2 linked regions of the Homo sapiens genome follow. The protein of the gene in region 2 interacts with the protein of the main gene of each other region in a pairwise test. Each region holds a gene or a part of one and is shown on either strand. Other genes may lie near its edges.

Region 1 (11,604 bases), on a different chromosome or scaffold from region 2:
GGCCAGCTTCTAACCATTGATCCAACAGGCCCAGGATGACGATCCTGTCTGCCACACTCCAGGCCTTACCGCAGGGACCATTTCACCCTTATCAGGATGAGGGAGAAGGTGGACAGGGGCTCCATATAACACAGTTGTGCTCTCTCCTCCTCTCCTAAAACACACAAAGACCAGCATTCCAGGGGGCAAAGACCAGGTCTCCCCAACCAAAATGGCCTTGTGGCAGATGCCCTGTCTTCTTACTCCAAAACCTTTGCTGCTGCTTCCTTCCTTCCCTCTTCTGATATATCCAGGTCCATTCCCTGGGGGTGTGATCCACACCAATCGCATAAAGACCAAAAAGGTCCAAATGACCCATCTGACCCCACAGGGAACAAGGAAAACTAACTAACCACCACATCCCATCCCTGTCTTGGGAGTTAGGGAGGCAAACACAGGACACCCACTGGGGAGTGCTAAGAAGGACGTTGGGCCAGGCGTGGTGGCTCATGCCTGTAATCCCAGCACTTTGGGAGGCCAAGACAGGTGGATCACCTGAGGTCAGGAGTTTGAGAACAGCCTGGCCAACATGGCAAAACCCAGTCTCTACTAAAAATACAAAAATTAGCTGGGTGTGGTGGCACATGCCTGTAATCCCAGCTACTCAGGGGACTGAGGCAGGAGAATCGCTTGAACCTGGGAGGGAGAGATTGCAAGTGAGCCCAGATTCTGCCACTGCACTCCAACTTGGGCAACAGAGTGAGACACTGTCTCAAAAAAGAAAAAAAAAAGGATGTTGAAGATAAAAACCAGAAAATAAATCGCAGAGAAGCATCCAGGATTTCCAGACCAACAGGAACATGACGATCCATGGACAGTTCTACTGAGGGTGGGGAGATCATTAGTTTCCTTGTGTACTACCATTACATTTTGTTTTGAGAATATCCTCTTCAATTATTTGGAAGCCTCTGGTGAAATTCCTCATTTCAAAGACTGCCCCACTCACACAAGACCTTCGGAGGCTGCTGAAGCACCTACAACCCCAGCCACCACCATCACACAAAATGGGGCCCCAGAGTCACCACCACGCTAATATTTTGAGAGCTTCTATGTATCCAGAACTACATTAAGGCTTTTACAGATGGTGTCTTATCTAATCTGTACAACTCTATGATTATTATCATGACCTTTTTCAAAGTGAGGAAGTGGGATAAGTAACCTGTCTGCTGGTAAGTCACAGAACGGGGAGTGAAATCCCAGTCTCCAGGTTTTTAAGCCCTGGGCCATCCTTCCTTCCCAACAGGGCAGGGGCAGCTCCAGGCAGGGCTGCCAGGGAGGAGAGCTGCAGAGCTGCGGGCTTATCTGAGCCTGGTTTCAGGACTGCAGAGGCCTCTCAAGCCCAGCCCTATTTCTTGGGCCTCTTGCAGCAAATAGAATACAGAGAGCTGCAAAGGGCCAGCTCATTTTGTTGGGAACTCTCGTACTCTTCTGTGTACTCCGTCACCCATGGTCCTAAGGCTTTCCTAGGCTCTAAGTTCTAGACTGTCTCCCCCATCCCATAAGAAGCTCTTCCAGACATTGTTACTAAAATCTCCCTTCACCATCACTGCTCTGCACTGACCACCTACCATGTACAGGGACTGTACTAGGTGCTTAAGCTGCATTTTCATTTCATCCCTCACATCAACCATATGAAGGTATAAATTATCTCCATTTTACAGACGTGAAAACTGAGGCACCAAGAGTTTATATGACTTGCCACAGGTGGCAGTTTTGGGACTGGGATCTGTCCAGTGCCACTCTGTAGCCCCTTCCTAACCATAAGGGTACCTTCCCCAGTCAGGTCCTCTCTTGGCAAAGGGCCACCACCTGCCCTACCTGAGACCACCACAGCCAACTCCTGGAGTTAAAGAATGGATACTTTTCATTTCCACCATTATCCAAAGCTGAGGAGGGTACACCCTGGTCTTCTCTGCCTTGCCCTCTCCCTACCAGGCAGCGTTCAGACTCAGTCTTGGTAGCCCACACCAGGGTGCTCCAGGAAATACCACCAGGAATGACCACTACAGCCAGAGGTGGGGACCACAGCGGGGGTGACAGCCCTCCCCCTCTGTCAGTGGGCATGCTGTTAGGTCCAGTAAACTAGAGCACCAGGCCAACTTCACAGACTTTCCTCTGCCCATCCTAAGTGACCCTCCCCACTCCTGTTCCCCCCCCGGTTCTATAAATAAACCAGGTTGTTGCATCAGAGAAAACAGCCAGGTGGGTGTGGAAAGATCCTGGTGGAAAAGATGATTTCTATAAAATAAATTAAGGTTCCCATTCAGATCAAGGGGTGGTAAGTCAAATTCTCCAAGACAGGCTGTTCTTGGCTGAAAATGGGTCCACCTGGACCTACAAGCTTGGCCAGCTCAGCTAAGGAAGATCCAGAGGCCAAGAGGAAAGCAAGGGCAGGAACTGGAAAAAACAATCAAAGAAGCTGCTCCCTGCAGGCCTGGAGCCTTTTTTTGGTCTGCCTCCTCCTGTTCCCCCAGCACCCCCTGAACAGATGTGTCATCTAACAGTCTGGTCAGAGTAGCTGATTGGTGGAGGGTGAAGGACTGGGGGAAGGGGTGGAATGATTTGGGGGATAGGCACCTCTTCTGAAAAAGAATGGGCTAAGAGATCCAGGAGAGAGCTTTTCGCCCCATATACCCACCCCCTTGGGCTCCAGGAACCAGGAAGGAGGGAGAGGACAGAAAGGAGGAAAAAAACAAGGTCCAAGCTATATACCACATGATCCCACACCCTGCCACCAAACAGCAAGTCATGAAGGAAGGCGGGGAGCAGGCCAGGGGATGGGGAAATGGAGTCAGGTCACAGCCATGCCTGGAACCTGCACTAACGCCCTCCCCATCCCAGACCACAGAGAGCCAGCCAGGAAAGTCATTCCACACCCATGTTTCAGAAAACATTCAAGGTCAGATCCTTTTTACCTAAATCCTGCTTTCATTTGGGTTTGCACCAGGCTCATCCCCCTCCTCCAGCAAGCCTTCCTGGATTTATTCACTCAGTGGATGCCATTCCACTGGGGCAAACCTTTCCGGCACCTCTCCTGACCTAAGGCACAGTCCTGCCCCAATCCCCTTACCCTCCTACCCAGATCACTCCCAAGTTAACCACTTGAGTGATCCACAGCAGGCTGTCAGCCCCGGGGACTGGCTTCCAGCTCCTGCCCAAGCCCAAAACAGGAAATGGGGCTCCAAGGCTGAAGCCTTGATCTTAACACAGGCAAGGTTAAATGCTGCCAAAATAAATGATTTAAAAAAACCCTGGCCCACTGAGGTGGAAGTGACCGGGAGATAATCTCCTGCTGTTCATTAACCATGCCGCTGCCTCTACCTCAGGCAGGGCAGGGCAGGCAGGCAGGCCACTGGAAGGCTGACTCAAGTGTTTCCTTCCTTAACTTAGAAGCTCCTCCTATCCTCAGACCAGGGACACAGGACACAGAGGGACAGGATGGGGGTGGGGGGGTGACATCTCTAGATAGTGGAGGGCATCTTGAGAGCAAGAGGCAGATGCCCCCTGCAGCCAGCTTCTACGTTTAGCGGGGTAATCAACATTCAACCTCGCCCTGGAGGAAGACACCTGGCTTTCCTTCCCCCGTAGGGCAAGGCTGCGCCTCTCCACTCCCCTGCCGGACAGGCGCCCGCAGTTCCCCTCCCCTTTGAGGAAAGGGAGGCAGGCCCGGAGGTTCTAAGAACGGCCCCAAGATTTCCCTTCTTGAGGTTTCCATAGCCCCAAAGCCTCTGAATCTCATTCCTAACTTTACTTGACAATCTACTCCTAACGTTCGCCACCACTTAAACCTCCCCCAGGCCTCCCAGGGACCACCAGTGGCTGAGCCCCACACAGCGCACGTTTGGGAAGCTTGAAGACGACCCCGAAATGCGAAGAACCAACGTTTCTGTCGGTTTACGCCCTTAAGCACGAGGCAAGGGCTCACTGGCCCGGCTGAAGTTCGGGGTCCTGATCCCCCACCAGCCCCGCCCTGTTAGGCCTTTAGCCGTTTCTGTGCCCCCGCGCCCCCTACTCACTGCGTGTGCTGGGCGCGGCCTGCGCCGAAGACCTCGTCCAGCGCCACCGTGGCCTGGCCCAGGAACTTGTCGACGCCGATGAGCGAGCGGTGCATGGTGGTGAGCACCAGCTCGCAGGCGGCGGCGGAGCTCGCGGCCCAGGGCGCCGGGCCCGCGTCGGCCTCCTGCGCCCGCAGCAGGCCATCCAGGGCCCCCGGCGGCAGCTCGAAGGAGCACTCCTCACGCCACTCGGGGCAGCCGTGCGTCTTCTCCACCACCGACGTACTGTACTTCTCGCGGCCCACCTGGATCACCGTGTACGCGTCGCTGGTGCTGCCCGCTCCCGAGCTCTTGCCCCGCAGCCCGCGGGCCCGCAGCACCGTCACCTGGACGTGCGTGGGCAGCCAGCGGGAAGGCCCCGCCGCCGGCTCCGCGCCCCGCACCAGGGCCATGGCGGAGAAGCGGGGGGCGAGGTCTGGCCGAGCCGGTGCAGACCCCAGGACCTGGTGACAAACCCGGCCGCGGCAGAAGGCGGTCAGGAACCAACTCTGAGCGCCGCCGCAGCTGCGGGCTGGGCTGGGCCGGGCCGACCGGCCGCCGCCTCCCCGCCTCACCGGGCCGCTGGCCGCGGGCCGCGCCGCGACGTCAGCGCCCCGCCCCCTGCCCCGCCCCGCGCCCGCCGCCCCAACCGGCGAGGCGGTGCGACAGGGATGCGGGCACGCAGCTCGCGCCCCGGCAGCCGCAGACCAGCCCGGAGCGGGAAGGGGCGGTGCGCGGCCTCTGCAGAGGGTGGGCGGAGTTCCCGCGGTGGCCCCGCCCCTGGCTGGGGGCGCCCGAAGCAACCCGGCCTCGCTTGTGGGGAGCCCTACACCCGCGGCCAGGTACGAAAAACCCGCTCTGCGCCTCCAGGCCAATCCCACGTCTTCCTTCTAAAAGTCCCTGCTCCGGAAAGCCCTCTCCGTAAAAGGGTCCCGGCCCGCAGTTCCTGGGATGGCCAGCCTCTTGGCGCGGACTTGGGGTGATGGGGACCCCCGCCGCTCCCCTGACCCCGGGCCGCGCTCTCCCCTCCTCCAGTCCGCCCCTGCGGGGGAAAATGCCGGAGTGAAACTGGAGCGATTGCCGCCCCGCCACGTGACGGTCCCGCATCGGCGACCTGGAAGCGGGTGAGCTGCCGCCGCCTCCAATCTCTCCCGGCGCAGGGGGCCGGGATGCGGCCATGCGGCGGCGCGGGAGGCCCGAGAGCGGGGCTCACCCTCCTCAGACTCTGCGGCGGAGAGCCGAGTGATGAATAAATGAGTAACCACATCAATATTTAAGTGTTCACTCGGAGCCTTGGGGCCAGTGTGTCACGGGTTGGGGGAAATTACAGGCCCTGGTGGGGGGTTAAATAACTACTTCCACCCATTATTAAGTGCCTACTGTGTGCCAGGGCCTAAGTATTAACGTATACTTGGTTTATTATTGATAATAACGATGTTTAGTAATTATAGATGCTGAATTTCAGCCAACTCTGGTCAGTGCGCTTTTATATGCATTACCTCATTTTATCCTCAGAGCAACTCTGTGGGGTGAGTATGGCTTTTATCCCTATTTTCCAGAAGATAAAATGTCAGCTCAGATGGGGGAGGGTTGTGAATCCACTAGATGCCCCCAGAGCGTTTTTTTTTTTTTTAACTTTCAGAGCCTGTACTTTTAAAATAATAATTTAAAAATAATACACACAGCTTTTTTAAAAAAATCAAATAGGACAGAATGGCTTGCAATGAAAAGCAAGAACTCCCTCTCCATCCTTCAATCCAGGGATGCTGCTTAAAGCCACTGGTGTTTTCAGGTCTGATGGTTACCTCCACATCACTACATTAAGATGCTCACATAGCTACATCTGCATTTATCAGGACTGGCCACTGTCTGTTGCCTTCCTCCTATGATAGATAATGATTTAGCTGGCTCACACCCACTTCCATCCCTCAATCTTGTGTAGTTATGCTATTATTTTTAGTTCCTCTATAGCAGGGGTCCCCAACCCTTGGGCCACAGACTGGTAACCCTCCATGTCCTGTTAGGAACTGGGCTGCACAGTAGGAGGTGAGTGGTGGTAGGGGCTAGCTGGTGAAACTTCATCTGTATTTACAGCCGCTTCCTATCGCATTACCGCCTGAGCTCCACCTCCTGTCAGATCAGCTGTGGCATTAAATTCTCCTAGGAGCACAAACCCTATTGTGAACTGTGCATGCGAGGGATCTAGGTTGCATACTCCTTATGAGAATCTAATGCCTGATGATCTGTCACTGTCTCCCATCCCCAGATGGGACCATCTGGTTGCAGGAAAACAAGGTCAGGGCTCCCACTGATTCTACATTATGGTGAGTCATATAATTGCTTCATTATATATTACAATGTAATGATAAGAGAAATAAAGTGCACAGTAAATGTAATGCACTTGAATCATCCTGAAACCATCCCTGCCACCCTCAGTCTGTGGAAACTTACATTTTGGTCCCTGGTGTCAAAAAGGTGGGGAACCAGTGCTCTATAGGATACCCAACAGGAGAAACATGTATTTCTTCTTAGGGAGACTCCACAGTACCCCTCAACTGTCCACCTTCCAGGCCATGTCCTCTACTGGGAATATGAACCTAGGAAACCAGTAGAGTAGGCAGAGGAGACCCATGATAGCACACCCAGCACAGGCCCAGTCCTCACAGCCTCCCACCTTAACTCTTCCATCAGAAGACTGGAGTGGGGAAGTCCTAGGCACCAGCCCCATGGTCCAGCAACCCTGACGATAGCACCTAGCTTTAGAGACAGCCAGATCTGCCTACAGATATTGGCCATCTGCCTCTTAGTAGCTATGAAACCTGAAGTTTAAGCCAACTCTCTAACCTCTCTTGGCCTTATTTCTCCATTTGGATAATGGGATAATGATTCTTACCTCAAGCCAGGCGGAGTGGCTCACACCTGTAATCCCAGCACTTTAGGAGGCCCAGGCTGGTGGATCACTTGAAGCCAGGAGTTCAAGACCAGCCTGGGCAACATGGTGAAACCCCACCTCTACTACAAAGACAAAAAATTCCCCTGGCGTGGTGGTGGGCACCTGTAGTCCCAGCTACTTGGGAGGCTGAGGCACAAGGATCACTTGAACCTGGGAGGCAGAGGTTGCAGTGAGCCAAGATTGTGCTGCTACACTCCAGCCTGGGCGACAGAATGAGACTTTGTCTCAAAAAAATAAAAAATGGGGCCAGGCCTGGTGGCTCATGCCTGTAATCCCAGCACTTTGGGAGGCCGAGGCGGATGGATCACTTGAGGTCAGGAGTTCCAGACCTGCCTGACCAACATAGTGAAACCCCGTCTCTTCTGAAACTATGAAAATTAGCAGGGCATGGTGGGGCACACCTGTAATCCCAGCTACTCAGGAGGCTGAGGCACAAGAATCACTTGAACCTGGGAGACAGAGGTTGCAGTTAGCCAACATCGCACCACTGCACTCCAGCCTGTGCAACAGAGTGAGACTCTCTCTCAAAAAAAGAAAAAATGGAAATAAATCATAACGCAACCATCCATAAATAAACACTGTTAATAATTTGTTGTGTTTCTTTCTAGTCTTTATACTGTATGTGTTTGTTTTATATACATTATGGTTTTTGAGACATCTAAAGTATAATTATTAAATCTGTGGGCTTTGGAGTCCTGGTTCTACCATTACTTTATATATATTATCACTCTTGGCTATAAGTCTGTATACTAAAGAAAAAGTATATACATATAATACTTACACACACACACACACACACACACATAGTCATGTTTAACCCTGAAGATAACCATTTAAAGCAAGTGCTACCCTTGGTTTCACTGATGAGGAAACAGAAGCAGGAAGAGCTTGGGTGATTTTCCCCAAGTCTCCAACCGGAAAATTGTAGAGACTGAGTGGCTCTACTGGCTGTGGTACTCTGCTCTCACACCAGCTTGTTGGTCAGCCAAGCACTAGATCCATTTAAAGTCAATAAAGAAGGAAGTGTTCTCATACCCATTTTACAGACGAAGATTGAGGCAACCAAGGTTACAAGAGTCAGGATGAACCTCCCACTTTAAGAGTGAATTCTTCAAGGACTTTGCAAGTGACGATATCATCACTAAACTTCAACTAACATAAATGTGTCACTCCTTCAGCGGGTCTGTTTCATCTGTTTGCCTGTTCTCCAACGTTACTGCTCCTACCTCCTCCCTCCCTCCTCCTCCGCCAAGGAGGAGCAAAGCACCAGGAAAGGGGAAAAGGTGGAGAGCACTCAGATGGCTCCTCTGCCTCACCTGCCCTCTGGCTCTCTTTCCTCCTGCCTTGGCCCTCACAGATTGGCAAGCTCAAGCTTCCTGCTGGCTCTGGACTGTGGCTGGCTATAGGAGGGGAACGAAACCAGCCAGGGCTCCCACCCCACGTTGCCTGGCCCTAGAAGGAAAAGCCAGGTCTGCTAGCTGTCTGTGGTTGAGAAAAGAGCAGAAACACCAGATACTGAGGTCTTGGCCATCTAAAGGTGTGTTTCCTCCTCTATAAGATGAGATCCCCCCCACTCCCTGCAGCAGCCTGCATAAGAGTTAGACAAGAAGACCCCAAAAGCATCAGTTTCCTCTGCCTCCCCAGGGCTGGGTGTCCTCACTGCCTTCCTGGGCCTCTCTAGTCCATTGGAGACAGTTCTTGCTTGAAAAGCATCCACCTATGTGTAGCTTCCACTCATTGCCCCCTCTTCAGTACCACTAAGCCCATTTGCTTTTCCATGTAGACACTTCACATGTATTTGTCCTGCTCTTCCAGCTACATTTCCCTCTGTTCTTCACCTCACCTTCCTGCAGCTATTTTCCAGGCCCTCTTTATAGCAGAACCACATGCCCAGGTCTAAGCCCTGGTGCCACCACTTACTAACTGTATAAGCATGGGCAAATTACTGAACCCTACTGAGTCTGTTTCCACCTCTGTAAAATGGGCCTGCTAATAAGAAATTACCTCATAGGGTTAGTATGAGAGCTATCTCAATACACCCTAAGCAGTAATGAGCATGAATTATCATCTTAGAACTCTTTGCTGAAGGCAAAAGCTTCTGCCTCCTTGTTGTTTCATTTGCATTTCTTTGATTGCCAGAGAGATTGAACTTCTTTTCAGTTATTAGTCATTTGTATTTCCTTCTTTAATGAATTGTCTATTTTCTGAATTGCCTATTTTCTATGCTTGTTTTTCTTTGAAGCCTTAATTTCTTATTATTTATACAAATGCTTTATATGTTAAGAATAGTAACATGGCCAGGCACAGTGACTCATGCCTGTAATCCCAGCACTTTAAGGGGCTGAGGAGGCAGGATTGCTTGAGTCCAGGAGTTTGAGATCAGCCTGGCCAACATGGTGAAACCCTATCTCTAAAAAAAAAAATACAAAAATTAGCTGGGTGTGGTGGCACATGCCTACTGAGGTGGGAGGATCACCTGAGCTTGGGAAGTCGAGGTTGCAACAAACTGTGATCATGTCACTGCACCTCAGCCTGGGCATCAGAATGAGGCCCTGTCTCAAAAGAAAAAGAAAAAGAAGGCCGGGCACGGTGGCTTATGCCTGTAATCCCAGCACATTGGGAGGCCGTAGGTGGGCGGATCACAAGGTCAGGAGATCGAGACCATCCTGGCTAATACGGTGAAACCCTGTCTCTACTAAAAATACGAAAAAATTAGCCGGGCGCGGTGGCGGGCGCCTGTAGTCCCAGCTACTCAGGAGGCTGAGGCAGGAGAATGGTGTGAACCCGGAAGGCGGAGCTTGCAGTGAGCCAAGATCGTGCCACTGCACTCCAGCCTGGGAGACAGCGAGACTCCATCTCAAAAAAAAAAAAAAAAAGAAAAAGAATAGTAACACTTTGTTGTTCATATTTACTGCAGGTTTTCTTTTTTTAATTTAATTTAATTTTTTTTTTGAGACAGAGCCTTGCTCTGACACCCAGACTGGAGTGCAGTGGCACAATCTCAGCTCACTGCAACCTTCACCTCTCGGGTTCAAGCGATTCTCCTGCCTCAACCTCCCCAGTAGCTAGGACTATAGTGTGCACCACCACATCCGGCTGATTTTTGTATTTTTAGTAGAAACAGGGTTTTGCCATGTTGGTTAGGCTGGTCTCAAACTCCTGACCTCAGGTGATCCACCCCCCTCAGACTACCAAAGTGTTGGGATTACAGGTTTTAGCCACTGCTCCCAGCCTGGATATGTTTTCGATATAAGACATTAGGTAGGCTGAGTGCAATGGCTTATGCCTGTAACCCTAGCACTTTGGGAGGCCGAGGCAAGAAGATTACTTGTGAGCCCAGGAGTTCTAGACCAGCCTGGACAACGTAGCAAGACCCTGTCTCTTTTTAAAAATTATTTTTAAATTAGCTAGGTGTGCTAATGCACGCCTGTAGTCCTGACCACTGAGGGGGTTGGAGTAGGTCTGAGGCAGGAGGATTGCTTGAGCCCGGGACGTCCTGGCTTCAGTGAGCCATTATCACACCACTACACTCCAGCCTGAGTGACAGAGCTCAGGCCCTGTCTAAATAAATAAATAAAATTAGATAATCAAATCTTTGAATTCTTTCCATTGTTTTAAGCTTGAGTTCTTCCAAACTTACAGGTCCAACAATATTCATTTGGATTTTTTCAAGTTTTTAAGTTGTTTGGATTTTTGTTTGTTCTTTTATTCTCTTTAAATCCTGCTAGCAACCATTTTGATGAATGATTTCAGGTAAATATCTAACCTGCTTTCCCCCAACAGCTATCCAAGTTTCCCAATATTTATTGCAAAGCCCTATCCCTTAGCCATTGGGTTTATCATATAAGTTTATATATATATTTGTAGTGAAGGGGTGGCCTGCCCCTCCACACCTGTGGGTATATCTCATCAGGTGGGACGAGAGACTGAGAAAAGAAATAAGACACAAAGTATAGAGAAAGAAAAGCGGGCCCAGGGGACTGGCGCTCAGCATACCAAGGACCTGCACCGGCACCAGTCTCTGAGTTCCCTCCGTATTTATTGATTATTATTTTCATTATCTCAGCAAGAGGAATGTGGTAGGAGAACAGGGTGATAATAGAGAGAAGGTCAGAAAAAAAACATGTGAGCTAAAGAATCTATGTCATAATTAAGTTCAAGGGGAGGTACTATGCCTGGATGTGCACGTAGGCCAGATTTATGTTTCTCTCCGCCCAAACATCTCAGTGGAGTAAAGAATAACAAAGCAGCATTGCTGCCAACATGTCTCGCCTCCCGCCATAGGGTGGTTTTTCTCCTATCTCAGAACTGAACAAATGTACAATCGGGCTTTACACCGAGACATTCAGTTCCCAGGGGCAGGCAGGAGACAGTGGCCTTCCTCTATCTCAACTGCAAGAGGCTTTCCTCTTTTACTAATCCACCTCAGCAGAGACCCTTTACGGGTGTCGGGCTGGGGGACGGTCAGGTCTTTCTCACCCACGAGGCCATATTTCAGACTATCACATGGAGAGAAACCTTAGACAATACCCAGCTTTCCAGGGCAGAGGTCCCTGCGGCTTTCCGCAATGCATTGTG
Region 2 (11,636 bases):
TCTCCAGCCTAGAACAGCCTCTCAAAAATGCTTGCAAGTGTTTAGAAAATAATAATAATGACAAGGAGAGCACCAGCAATTCTGATATTATGCCTACTCTGTGCAGATACTGGACTAAGCCCTTTGTATGTATTAACTCACTCAAACCCCACAATAACCCTATAGAATGGGGACTCTGATCAGCCCCATTTGATGGATGAGTAAATAGAGGCCTAAAGAGGTTAGGGAGACAATGCAATATATCAGAAGGCAACACAGGGTCAGGATGTTGAGCCATCATGTTACATACTTATCAGAGTCCTGCTCCCTGGCATTGTAGACTTTCAGGATCAGGGCAGTGGTGTGCCCCCATCCCTCAAAAATCTGCATTTCTTTCTTTTCTTTTCTTTTCTTTTCTTTTTTTTTTTTTTGTGGCAGGGTCTCACTCTGTCACCCAGGCTAGAGTGCAGCGATGTAATCTCAGCTCACTGCAACCTCCGCCTCCCAGGTTGAAGCGATTCTCCTGCCTCAGTCTCCCAACTAGCTGGGATTACAGGTGCACGCCACTACACCGGGCTAATTTTTGTATTTTTTGTAGAGATGGGGGGTCTCACCATGTTACCCAGGCTGGTGTGGAACTCCTGAGCTCCAGTGATCCTCCCACCTCAGCCTCCCAAAGTGTTAGGATTACCGGCATGAGCCACCACGCCCGGCCCATTGTCTCCTCTTTTCTGCTGTGATACCTAGGTCAACAAAGTAGGGAACTATCAGGGACTAACCTAATCCATAAATAACATTATTAAGTAACATTCATACTTGATCCTGACTTCCTTAGTTTTTACCTAATGTCCTCTTCTTGATTCTAGGGTCCCATCCAGGACACCACACTGCATTTAGTCAGCTGCCTCCTTAGTCTCCACTTGGCTCTGACAGTGTCTCAAAATTTCCTTGTTTTGGATGACCTTGACAATTTTGAGAGGTCCTAATCAGGCATTTTGTAGAATGCCTCTCGGATGGGATTTGTCTGGCATTTTTCTCAGGACTAGACTGGGATTACTGGTTTGGGAGGAAGACCACAGAGGAAAAGTTCTATTCTCACCACATCACACCAAGGGTGTATGCCATCATCACAATCTGTCACTATCGATGTTGTCCTTGATCACCTTCTGAGACAGTGTTTGTTGGGTTTCTCCACTATACAGTTGCTGTTCCCCCCACTTTCCAAACTCTACCCTTTATAAGGAAGCCACTACGCACATCTCATGCTTACACGGTGGGACGTTATGCTTCACTTCCTCAATGGGGCAATTATCAACATACGTTATTCAGATTTCTTCTATACGAGAGATTTTCCTATTTATTTATTATCATCTGTTCAATAATTTATACATATATATATTTCATTATGGCCTCATGGATATTTATTTCATACTTTATGACCTAGTATATTTTGGTTTTTGCAAAGCATTTGATCCTGGTATCCCTGGTATTCTGGGGGTAGGTGGTAAACTGTGGACAATCAGCTCTAAGTTCACTGAACTACATATCTAATGAATGATCATTATCCATCCCAGAGCACAAGTGGCTGGGAAATCAATGTCACTGCCTGATTTTAAAACAAATAAAATAGAAACAGTCAGAGTACACTGCATTTCGTAAGGGAGCCCCCCCCCCCCGCCCCCCGCCACCCCACCGCTGGAAAACAACACTCCGATTTTTTAATGCATCAGGGGATAAGATGGGTAGTGAGTAGAGATGCAAAATATATTTCCACGGGTCTCGGTCAATACAGCATAAGCCGAAAACCACCCCTACAAGTGCCTCGGGGCCCTGTCCATGGTCCTGCCCTGCAATGTTTAACCAGCCTTGTGGATTCAGACACACCAAGCACTGCTTCTCCAGCCCGCAGGCAGCAGCACAGCTGAGAGTGATAGAGGTAGGATGCTAGATTCTCTTTCTTGACAGATACAATGTGATGAAATGAACAAGACGAAATTAAATGGGAATAAGGGCCAAGAAACAGGCTTAGATTCCAGAAATTACTGACAGACAACAGGCCCGAATGCTTCCACAAGCCAGGATTGTTAAAAGAAAAAAGAAAAGAAAAGAAAAGAAAAAGGAATTGTGTACAGTAAGAGAGACTAAAAGGTGACAACAACCACATACACTGCACAGTCCTGGAGAGGAAACAGCAAAAATGGACATTTTGGGGTCAAATAGGGAAATCTGAAAAAGGTCTGCATATTAAACCAGATGAAAATTTATTGAAGCAGAAAAGTCATGATCATTTACCGGCAAAAAAAATCAGGTTACAAAACAGTATGCACAGTATGATCTCATTTTCTGGAGAAAATTGACATATAAGCATGGAAACAGCTCTGGAAAGGTCTGACAGAAGTGTCATTGAGGCGCTGCCTGAGAGATAGGACACAATACTTTTTATTTTGCTTGTCCCTATTTCCAGTTTTCTGCAATGCATATCCACCGCTTCTGTAGTAATCTCAGAGTATGCTTTTAAAAGAAAAAAATCACTGACCCTCCCCGAAGGGTGGAGAATCCCTGGCTTGGCAGAGGTTTCTAAAACAGATCCCTGGAGGTTTCGGTGGCCAGAAACTTAATATAAGCAGAGTGCAGTGCCCCATTCAGAGGCAGCCCCACCCTAAGCTGTGTGCATATGTGTGAGGTCTTGGGGCTAATATAGTCCTGGTGGGGGCGGCGGGGGGCGGTCTGCTTGTCCAGCCCTTTCATGTTATTGCTAGGAAAACTGAATCACAGAATTAGTCGATGGCAGCTCCAAGGCCAGAAGCCAGAGGTCTGGCTACTGGGTCACATGGAAATGGCCTAGGGCTTCAGGAACTGGGGTATTTGGCCTGGAGAAGGGAAAATGGGAGTATGGAGCTGGGAAGGAGAGAAGGGGCAGGAGTGCTATTTTCAAATATTTAAAGGCTCCCCCAAAGAAGAGAGACCTATGTGAGTCCCCGTGCAGAACGGTGATGACTAAGTGACAAGCAGGTCTGTCTCTAGAGTGTATGAGGGAGAAGGTTCTAATGGCAGGAACTGTCCAGCTGGGGGAGAAGTGGGTGAGGCTTGCTGGGCACGTGGCTGAGGCCGGTGGCCCCTGCCAGAGGTTGTTGGGAGGCCCTTCCCACTACTGAGGCTCTGAGTTCGGGGACTCCAGGTTTCAGCCAGAGCTGGTAGCTTCTTTACCCGACCTGCAGTCTGTGTTCTGAGAGGAAGGAGCGCGACTATCCCCATGCCAGGAGTCTGCTCAGCCTGCCCCAGATGGGAGCCACTGGAAAAACGGAAGGGCTTGGCTGGCCTTTGGGGAAGAAGGGTCATGGTGGCAGCAGGCAGTGTCCCTCAGCAAAGCCCCGCAGAGGGCAGTCTGGGCTCTCACAGGCACTGCAGTGGTCTTTCCTGTGGTGGGTACCTGAGTTCTCAAGCCCTGAAGCTGCCTCACTCTCTTCTGCCCACAGCTCTCAGCGACTCACAAGTCCCGGCCCATGCCCAGGTGCGGGTGGAGAGATGATTCTCAATCGCCTCCCACTCTCTGGTGACGCAGAGGCACGGGCCCAACCTGGCCATCACCCAGCTTCTCCCATGTTCTGAAATGCCTGGTCCGACCTGTTCTGGGAACACAATGCCAGCCAGTGCCCATTTGAGGCCCATGGCCCCAGGCCCCCCATGCAGGGCCTGAGGCCTTAGATGGCCTTGGAAACCCACTTCTCAGGGCTTTTGGCTCCAGGGGAAACCCCTGACCATTTCAGCCAGGTGGGTGTCTTGTCCTCCCCTTGAGACACAGTCCCCAGTCCCCATGCCGGTGGCACCAGAGGACACTGGTGTAGTGTGCGTTTAGTGATATGACTCCGTCCACCCTACTGGCGGCACCGACCCTCCGCTTCCAGCCCTGTTAACAATCTACGTAAGTCCTGCTTTCCCCAAATAGATGCGGCCCCGCCACATGAAAGCCCTCTGCTCAGCCACCACTCCCCGAGCCTGGCTTTGCCTGGCCTGCTGCAACCAACACAGCCAGCTGCCAGCCTGGCTGCCCAGCAGAGCCTGAATGAGAGGTCACCCGACACTGGCCCGGGAGTACACGGTGGCCCCAGCAGACACCTCCTTCCGTGTCTGGGCAGGGTGTGTGCAGCCGAGGAGCCAAGGCTGCAGAGCACCCCTACCGGTCCCTTTCACCCCCTGGCCCGGCCCAGCAGGACGTACACAGACCCTTGCATCTTGGTCTCCGCAGCGCCGGGTGGGGTGGGGAGCCTAGGGCCGGATTCTGGCAGCTCTCTCCCCCAGACAAGGGTGGATGTGCAGACCGCTCAGAAGGACCTGCATGGCCGAGGAAGGAAGGTGGGCGCAGAAGCCACCCTAGGCGTGACGCGTGACGCTCGGGGCACGGGCGCCGGGGGGCGGAAAGCGAGGGCCCGGCTGGGCCAGGGATACCCGGGGGGGGCCGAGGTCCTGGGCTCCGGCGGAGGGAGGGGATTGGGAGGGAGGCCACCGCCTCGGGCCACGCGGGTGACCCGGCGGGGGAGCTGGGGGAGGGGCGGCGGGGCTGGGCTGGGGTCCCCGGGCCGGGACTGGGGTCGGGCCAGCTTACCTCCTCGCCCTGGCCGAAGCGCAGTCCGAGCGCCGCGACGCGCTCCACGCGCAGGAAGCCGTCGGGGTCGCGGCCGCACACCTCGAACACCTCGCGCAGGCGGCGCACGGAGCGCAGCAGAGCCGCGGGGGCGCCCGACCAGCCCGCGCCGCCCGCCATCCGGGCCGGCCCGCAGCTCAGCCCGGACCCCTCGCCCGCCGCGCCCGCCGCCTGCCCGCCGCCGCCATCGCCGCGCGCCCTCCGGGGCCGCCCGTCTGGGTCTGCGCCGCGCAGCCTCCGCCCGGTGGCGGCCGCGGCCGATCCGTGTCAGCAGCGGCGCCGCAGCCCCAGCCGCTCCGGAGGGGAAGGGAGGGGAGGGGAGGGAAGGAGAAGAGTGGGGAGGGGAAGGAGGAGGGGCAATAGGGGGCGGGGAGGGGAGGGGCGGGGGCCGCGGCGAAAATGGGAGGGAGAGGGGGAGGCGGCGGGGGCGGCGGCGGCGGGGACGCTGCAGACAAAAGGAGCCCGCGTCCTCCCGAGTGGGGCGGCCCACGCGGGGCCGGCAGGCGCAGCGAGCTGCCAACGGCCGCGTCCTCCGCGACCTCAGTTTCCCTCCGCGTCCCCAGTTTCCCTCCGCGTCCCCGAGCCCACCCCTTCCTCTGGACACCCGGAGCCACCCAAAGGCCCTGCCCTGCCGGAGGATTCCGCGGGGTCGCGCCCCTTTCCGCTATCCGTGCCCGCTGCCGCGCCTGGCGTCTCCCGAGCGCTCAGGATGTCCTGGGGGCCTCCTGCATTGGCGCGTTCCGTGACTGCATTCATCCCGGAGGAAGCTGAGGCCCAGAGAGGTCGGACTCACTCTAGGCCACACAGCTGGCAAGAGGCAGGGCCGGGATTCGCTGCCATCTCTGGAGGGCTCTGGACTCCGTTCTTCACCTCCGCCCTGCGGTCTCCCGGCGCTCTCCTGCAAGACAGCACTTGTGGGGCCATCGGGCGGGGGAGGGCACAGAGAGGAGGAGCAGGCAACTGAACCCCAGCCTGGACCCGGGACCCTGCGACGGGGAGATGAGGAGAAAACCAGGATGAGGCCGGAGGGAGGAAAAGCGAGGCGCTTCCAGAGGCCTGCCTGTTCAGGGCCCAAGGCTGCTCCACGCCTGGAAGAGGCTTCCTCCCTTTCGCCGGGTTCCCACCATCACACCTCCCTGGCAGCCCGCATGCCCCAAGCTCAGAGAATCCAGGACAGAATCTCTGTCCCGCTGGCCGCAGGCTCTAGGTCAGGACCCTGGCCTCCTCCCATTAGTGCTCAGCGGAGCCTCCACCCCAGCTTGTGCTAACTTCCCAGCCCAGCCTCGGGGCCCTGCAGGACCCGGCCGGGCTCTTCTCTCCACCTTCTTGCTCGGCACATCAGGTCTTTGTGGCAACGACTGGCCCCAACCCAAAAAAAGGCCTTGGCTGAGTCTACTCCCACCTATGCTGTCATGCTCAGCACAGAGGTTTCCTCCTCCGGGAAGGCTTCTCTGATGGCACGCCATCTTATCTTCTATTCTGAGTTCTAAGCCCTTCTTCCAGGTGCCCAGTTAATTCTTAATTCTCTAGTGGGATGCCCATTTCCCCTACCATGCTGGGAAGCCCTCCAGGGCAAGATATGTCTTAATTACCTTCAAGTCCCTGATCTCCAGGCAAGAGTGGGCCCAGAGGAAGCCCCACCCAGAGGGGATGGGCCCGCCCATTATGTGAGGAGCCGGGAGCAACGTAGTGGCGCAGACAGGGAGTACGGGGTGAACTGCATGGCCTCCCCTAGCTGGGCCTCGGTTTGTACCTCTGTGGTCTTCCTGCTCAACCCTGAATATATCCTGCGCAGGGACTGCCATTTGCCTTCTGACAGTGGGCGGGGACCTCTTCTTTCCAGCCCCGGCTCCTGGGATGAACCTGGCTTTTAGCTACTCTCCTTTGACCCTTCAGTTCGTCTGAGAGCCACGAAAGGCAACACCTCTTGGGAAGAGAGACCTGTGGTTCTGAGGATTGAGGAGTCCGAAATGTGAGAAAGCGGGAAAGGGGAGGCCGTGGGAGTGGAGTAGGGGTATTCGGCTGAGTAGGAGCGTCTCTGCTAGCTGGATGCCGCTCAGCAGGATACTAGCATATTTTAGCCGGTTTCCTCGCCTGTACCGTGAGGATAATAGTACCTTCCTTTTAGGGCAACTGAAGATGAGAGCGAATCTAAGCAATGCTGCTTTCCCCCGACCTACCCTGCAAAATGGAGGTGGAAGTGGAGAATAAGGACAAGCAGCTGGCTGGGAGAGACTGGCTGCTGGAGATCCAGCCAGCCCCCTGGCAAGGAGGTAGGGAGTGGAAGCTGGGGGCTGCTGCCTGCCCCTGGGACCCCGATATTAGTTCGTCCAAGGTCAGCTCGTGCCATTTTCTCTCACCCAAGGGGCTCAGCACAGAAAGGAGATGGCCAGGAGCTGGGGCTGCCCCCTGGTGGGGGCTGCAGAAATGGCTCTCCGCGCTCAGCCTGGCATTGAATGCCCCCTAACTGGGGACAGGGGAGCTGGAAGACTCACCCACTTCAGCTGGCAGAGGCGGGGACCTCAGACCTGAGCATGAACAAATCCCAAGTGAACCAAGACAGAATCCCGCAACCAGATTAGCCAGTTCTTGTCAAAGACAGGATCATCACAAATTCAAAAATCCCCCAGGAGAGCTTTCCCTGACCGGACTCTCCTTGCCCAGGTCTCTGCAGTTTTGTCTCTGGTGGGCGATGGTTTGAAGGACACCTGCCTCCCCCACCAGTGGCACTGGGTCTCTTGCTCACCGCTGTGCTGCTGGGGCCAGCAAAGCACGTCACAGGCATTCTTTCTGGGGTTGTCACGTTTTTGTTGAGCACCTACGTTGTGTTGGGTATGCTAGGGAGACAGTGAAAGGGGTGCAGCCACTTGCTGAACTTGATGGGGGCAGTCATGGCCCAGTGTGATCTACACTGAGGTGCCAGGCTCTAGGAGCCCAAGAGGGCCTGCAGAAATGGCTGAGTGCCTACCCAAAGGTCCCTCAGAGATGGTGCAATTTATGGAGTCCTTGGGTCCTTGGAAGTGGACCTGGGACCACTAGGGCTCCCAAAACCCTGATCCAAGAGCTCAGAGTGCAGCCCCGAGCAGAAGCAGCAAGAGAATACCCATGTCAGGGCCGGCTGCAGGGTGAAGGGGGTTGCTCCAGGAAAGCAAGAGGTCCCCATGGATAGGGCGGGAAGGCGCGGAGCCTCCTTTCTGTCCTCCGCTTCCTCCAGGTGACCTCTGATTCTCCAGGGGATTTCCAACAGCTGCAGCAGCCTGGGCAGGCTGGAAATATACTGGGAAATATACATGGAAGGGACAGTTGGGACTCCGGCCCCTTCTCTAGGAAGAAACAAGTTTGATCAGGTCCCTCCCCTGCTGAAAACTCAATGGCCACCATTGCCTGAGCTGGCATTGTGCAGTGTCTTCATACTCTCCTGCCTCTCCTTAACCCTAGTCTGGGAGCATCCAGGCTCCCTCCTGCCTCCCTTTGCTTAGTGGGTGGGAGGTCTCAATCCTACCCCCACCCAATTCCACTTTCTCTAATTCCTGTCCTTGTGTTGTGGAAGTGGCACTTCCTACCGGAAGCCTTTCATGACCACCCCACTCCTTGCCCACCTTGACCACCTCTCCCATGTGCTCCTGCAGAGAAGTGAAAAGTACAGACTGCAGCCCACTTACAGGTATGGATAAGGCTGTGGTGAGAGTCAGTAAGTTAATACATACATTGTAAGTGTCAGAACAGTGCTGCTGGTTAGTGACAGCTATTGTCCTTGTGACTATCCTTACCATCTTACTCCTATTGTCTATCACCGGATTATCTGGGAAACTGTATGAAAGGTCACAGGAGTGACCATGAGGTCCCTGGGAGCAGGGACTGTGTCTATTTCTCTCCTGATTTCTGTAGCTCCTAAATAATGCCCATACACACATAGTTAGGGTCTGTGTAGGAATAAATTAAGGAATGGACAAATATGGCATGGTAGGCTGAAAAATGCCCCCTTAAATGATATCTATATTCCAATCCCTGTACATCAGTGGTCCCCAACCTTTTTTGGCACCAGGGACTGGTTTCATACAAGTCGGGGGAAGAGGGTCTTGGGATGAAACTGTTCCAACTTAGATCATCAGGCTTCAGATTCTCATAAGGGGTGCGCAACCTAGATCCCCCTCCTGCGCCATTCACAATAGGGTTCCCGCTTCTATGAGAATCTAATGCCACTGATCTGACGGAAGGTGGAGCTCAGGCGGTAATGCCCACTCACCCGGCGCTCACCTCCTGCTGTGGTTCCTAACAGGCCATGAACTGGTAATGGTCTGCAGTCTGGGCGTTGGGACCCCTGCTGTAAATGTTACCTCATTAGAAAAAGGGTCTTTGCAGATGTAATTAAGGATCTGGAGGCTGGGCGTGGTGGCTCACGCCTGTAATCCTAGCACTTTGGGAGGCTGAGGCAGGCAGATTGCTTCAGTCCAGTAATTCGAGACCAGCCTAGGCAATGTGATGAAATCCTGTCTCTACTAAAAAATACAAAAATTAGTTGGGCATCGTGGCATGTATCTGTAGTCTCAACTACTCAGGAGGCTGAGGCAGGAGGATGGCTTGAGCCAAGGAGGTGGAGGTTGCCGTGAGCCCAGATCATGCCACTACAGTCCAGCCTGGGTGACAAGAGTGAGACCCTGCCTCCAAAAAAAAAAAAAACAAAAAAAAAACTAACAACAAAAAAAACAACAGGATCTGGAGACAGGGGGGTTATTCTGGGTTAGCTAGGTGGACCCTTAATGCAATCACACATATCTATAGGATGGATCAGAGGCAGATTTGACACATAAAGAGAGGGTAATGTGACCACAGAGGCAGAGATTGGAGTGGTGCAGCCATAAGCCAAGGAGCAACAGCAGCCATCAGAAGAGGCAAGGAGCAGAATCCCTCCCAGAGCCTCTGAAGGGCCCACAGCCCTGCTGATGCCTGGATTTTGGCCTTCTGGCCTCCAGAACTGTTACAGAATAAATTTCTGGTGTTTTAAGCCACCAAGTTTGTGGGAGCTAGCACAGCAGCCATGAGAAATGAATACAGATGGGATGAATATCATGTGGAAGTTATCAAAGATTATGAAGAGCCAGGCTTTGGAATTCAAAACAGCTGAGCTGGGCACCAACATCTGTTGCTCTTTTAGCCCCATGACTCTGGTCAGGTTAATTTCTCTAAGCTTCAGTTTTTCTACCTTGTAGAGGTCCTTCAGGCTTTTAATTTAAAAAAGATTGCGTCATGCCTCGCCCAGCGCTTGGCACAGTACCTGGCACCTGGGTGGTGATTATGTGTGTCAGTATGGAGCAGTTTAGAACCAGTCTAAAAGGGGGAACATTTCTGTATTTTCATCTGTGAGCCTTGACTTCATTGTCCATGTTGTCTGGAAATGGGGCAGGATTCAGTTACTTCCTGTTCACAACCTGCTGGGTTTTTTTAAACCCATGAATAATTATCACTTTGAAGGGGAAGAAGGTGCCGTGAACTTATTTTCCTTCTTCACTGATCCCAGAATATGTTTCTGTGAGCAAAAGCAGAGAGGCCCCTGCTTGGAGACACAGCCAGCCCTGCCTGTGGAGTGCTGAGGACCCTGGCTGGACTAGGGCACACTTGGGGTGCAGGGGGGCACCTTGAGACCTCATCTTTCCTCTGCTGCATGAGCTGTTGATGTGAGGGGTATCCAGAATCTTCTCTGACCCTTAGAAGCAGGACCGGCTGATTGCTAAAATTCCTTCCGGGATTCTAAGAAGAAATGCCAAAACCTAACTTATTCTACCCAACTGGGCTCCAGATCCTTCTGTCAGCTGCAGAAATGGCCCCTGAAACTAACTTCCAGGCAGGGCACCAATATTTCCCTCCTGGCTTAGGAAGCAGTGTCCTTGGTGAGTCAAATCCACTCACATTCCCTGGCTTTGAGCCTTCTCTACTGCCCACTTCTGCCTAAAAGAAAAACTCAATCCTCAGGGTGAGCGGCAAGCAGGAAGGCCCTTTACAGCCTGATGCTCTCCATTCTGTAAAACATGGCTGGGCAGTAACATCATCTACTATACTCAGTTTACATTTATTGAGCACTTACTATATCCCAGGCATTGTGTGGCATAGACTCCAAGACAGTGACTCAACATGGAATTGATCAGTGAAATGCCTGGCTTGCCTTGCATATGCTGTTCCCTCTGCCTGGATTGTCCTCCCTCCACCACCCCCACTGCCATCCTTCAAATGCCACCCCCTCCAAGAAGCCTTCCCTGAGTCAGCTGCCCTTACTGCTCTGCCCTCACAGAACTTTGCAGACTCTACAGTGTGTTCGTGATGCACACACAGGGATGCTCTGCCCATCAGCTGTCTCCCCTGGCCAGGGCGCCCAGATGTCTTCTCAGGGATGATGGGATCATTCCAAGATTAGGAAAACAGACACAGGGTCAAGAGCCGAGAGTTAAGAGGCAGGTGAAGGAAGTGCTGTCAGAGCCATAGGAGGAGCGGGAACAGGTGCCTGGAAGCCAAAAGAGGTGAGGAAAATGACTGAATTATAGTTAAATGTGCACATCCTTCACCATGTATTTCTTTTTTTTTTGAGATGGAGTCTCACTCTCGTTGCCTAGGCTGCAGTGCAATGGCGTGACCTCAGCTCACTGCAACCTCTGCAGTGTTCAAGCGATTCTCCTGCCTCAGCCTCCCGAGTAGCTGGGATTACAAGGTGCCTGTCACCATGCCTGGCTTTTTTTTTTTTTTTTTTTTTTTTTTTTTAGATGGAGTTTCGCTCTTGTTGCCCAGGCGGGAGTGCAATGGTGCGATCTCAGCTCACTGCAACCTCTGTCTCCCAGGTTCAAAGCGATTCTTGTGCCTTAGCCTCCCAAATAGCTGGGATTACAGGCACATGCCACCATCCCTGGCTAATTTTGTACTTTTAGTAGAGACAGGGTTTCTCCGTGTTGGTCAGGCTGGTCCCGAACTCCCGACCTCAGGTGATCCACTCGCCTCGGCCTACCAAAGTGTTGGGATTACAGGCGTG

What was found.
Region 1: the proteins of RAB11FIP4 (region 2) and RAB11FIP5 interact in a two-hybrid assay, tested with the Homo sapiens proteins (one study listed by BioGRID).

The regions. Positions count from the first base shown.
Region 1 is NC_000002.12:73,108,292-73,119,895, forward strand, and holds the start of RAB11FIP5 (rab11 family-interacting protein 5), read right to left. Parts: upstream 4,658-11,604; 5' UTR 4,487-4,657; coding exon 4,056-4,486; intron 1-4,055. UniProt on the Homo sapiens protein: Rab effector involved in protein trafficking from apical recycling endosomes to the apical plasma membrane. Involved in insulin granule exocytosis. May regulate V-ATPase intracellular transport in response to extracellular acidosis.
Region 2 is NC_000017.11:31,384,958-31,396,593, reverse strand, and holds the start of RAB11FIP4 (rab11 family-interacting protein 4), read right to left. Parts: upstream 4,920-11,636; 5' UTR 4,742-4,919; coding exon 4,583-4,741; intron 1-4,582. UniProt on the Homo sapiens protein: Acts as a regulator of endocytic traffic by participating in membrane delivery. Required for the abscission step in cytokinesis, possibly by acting as an 'address tag' delivering recycling endosome membranes to the cleavage furrow during late cytokinesis.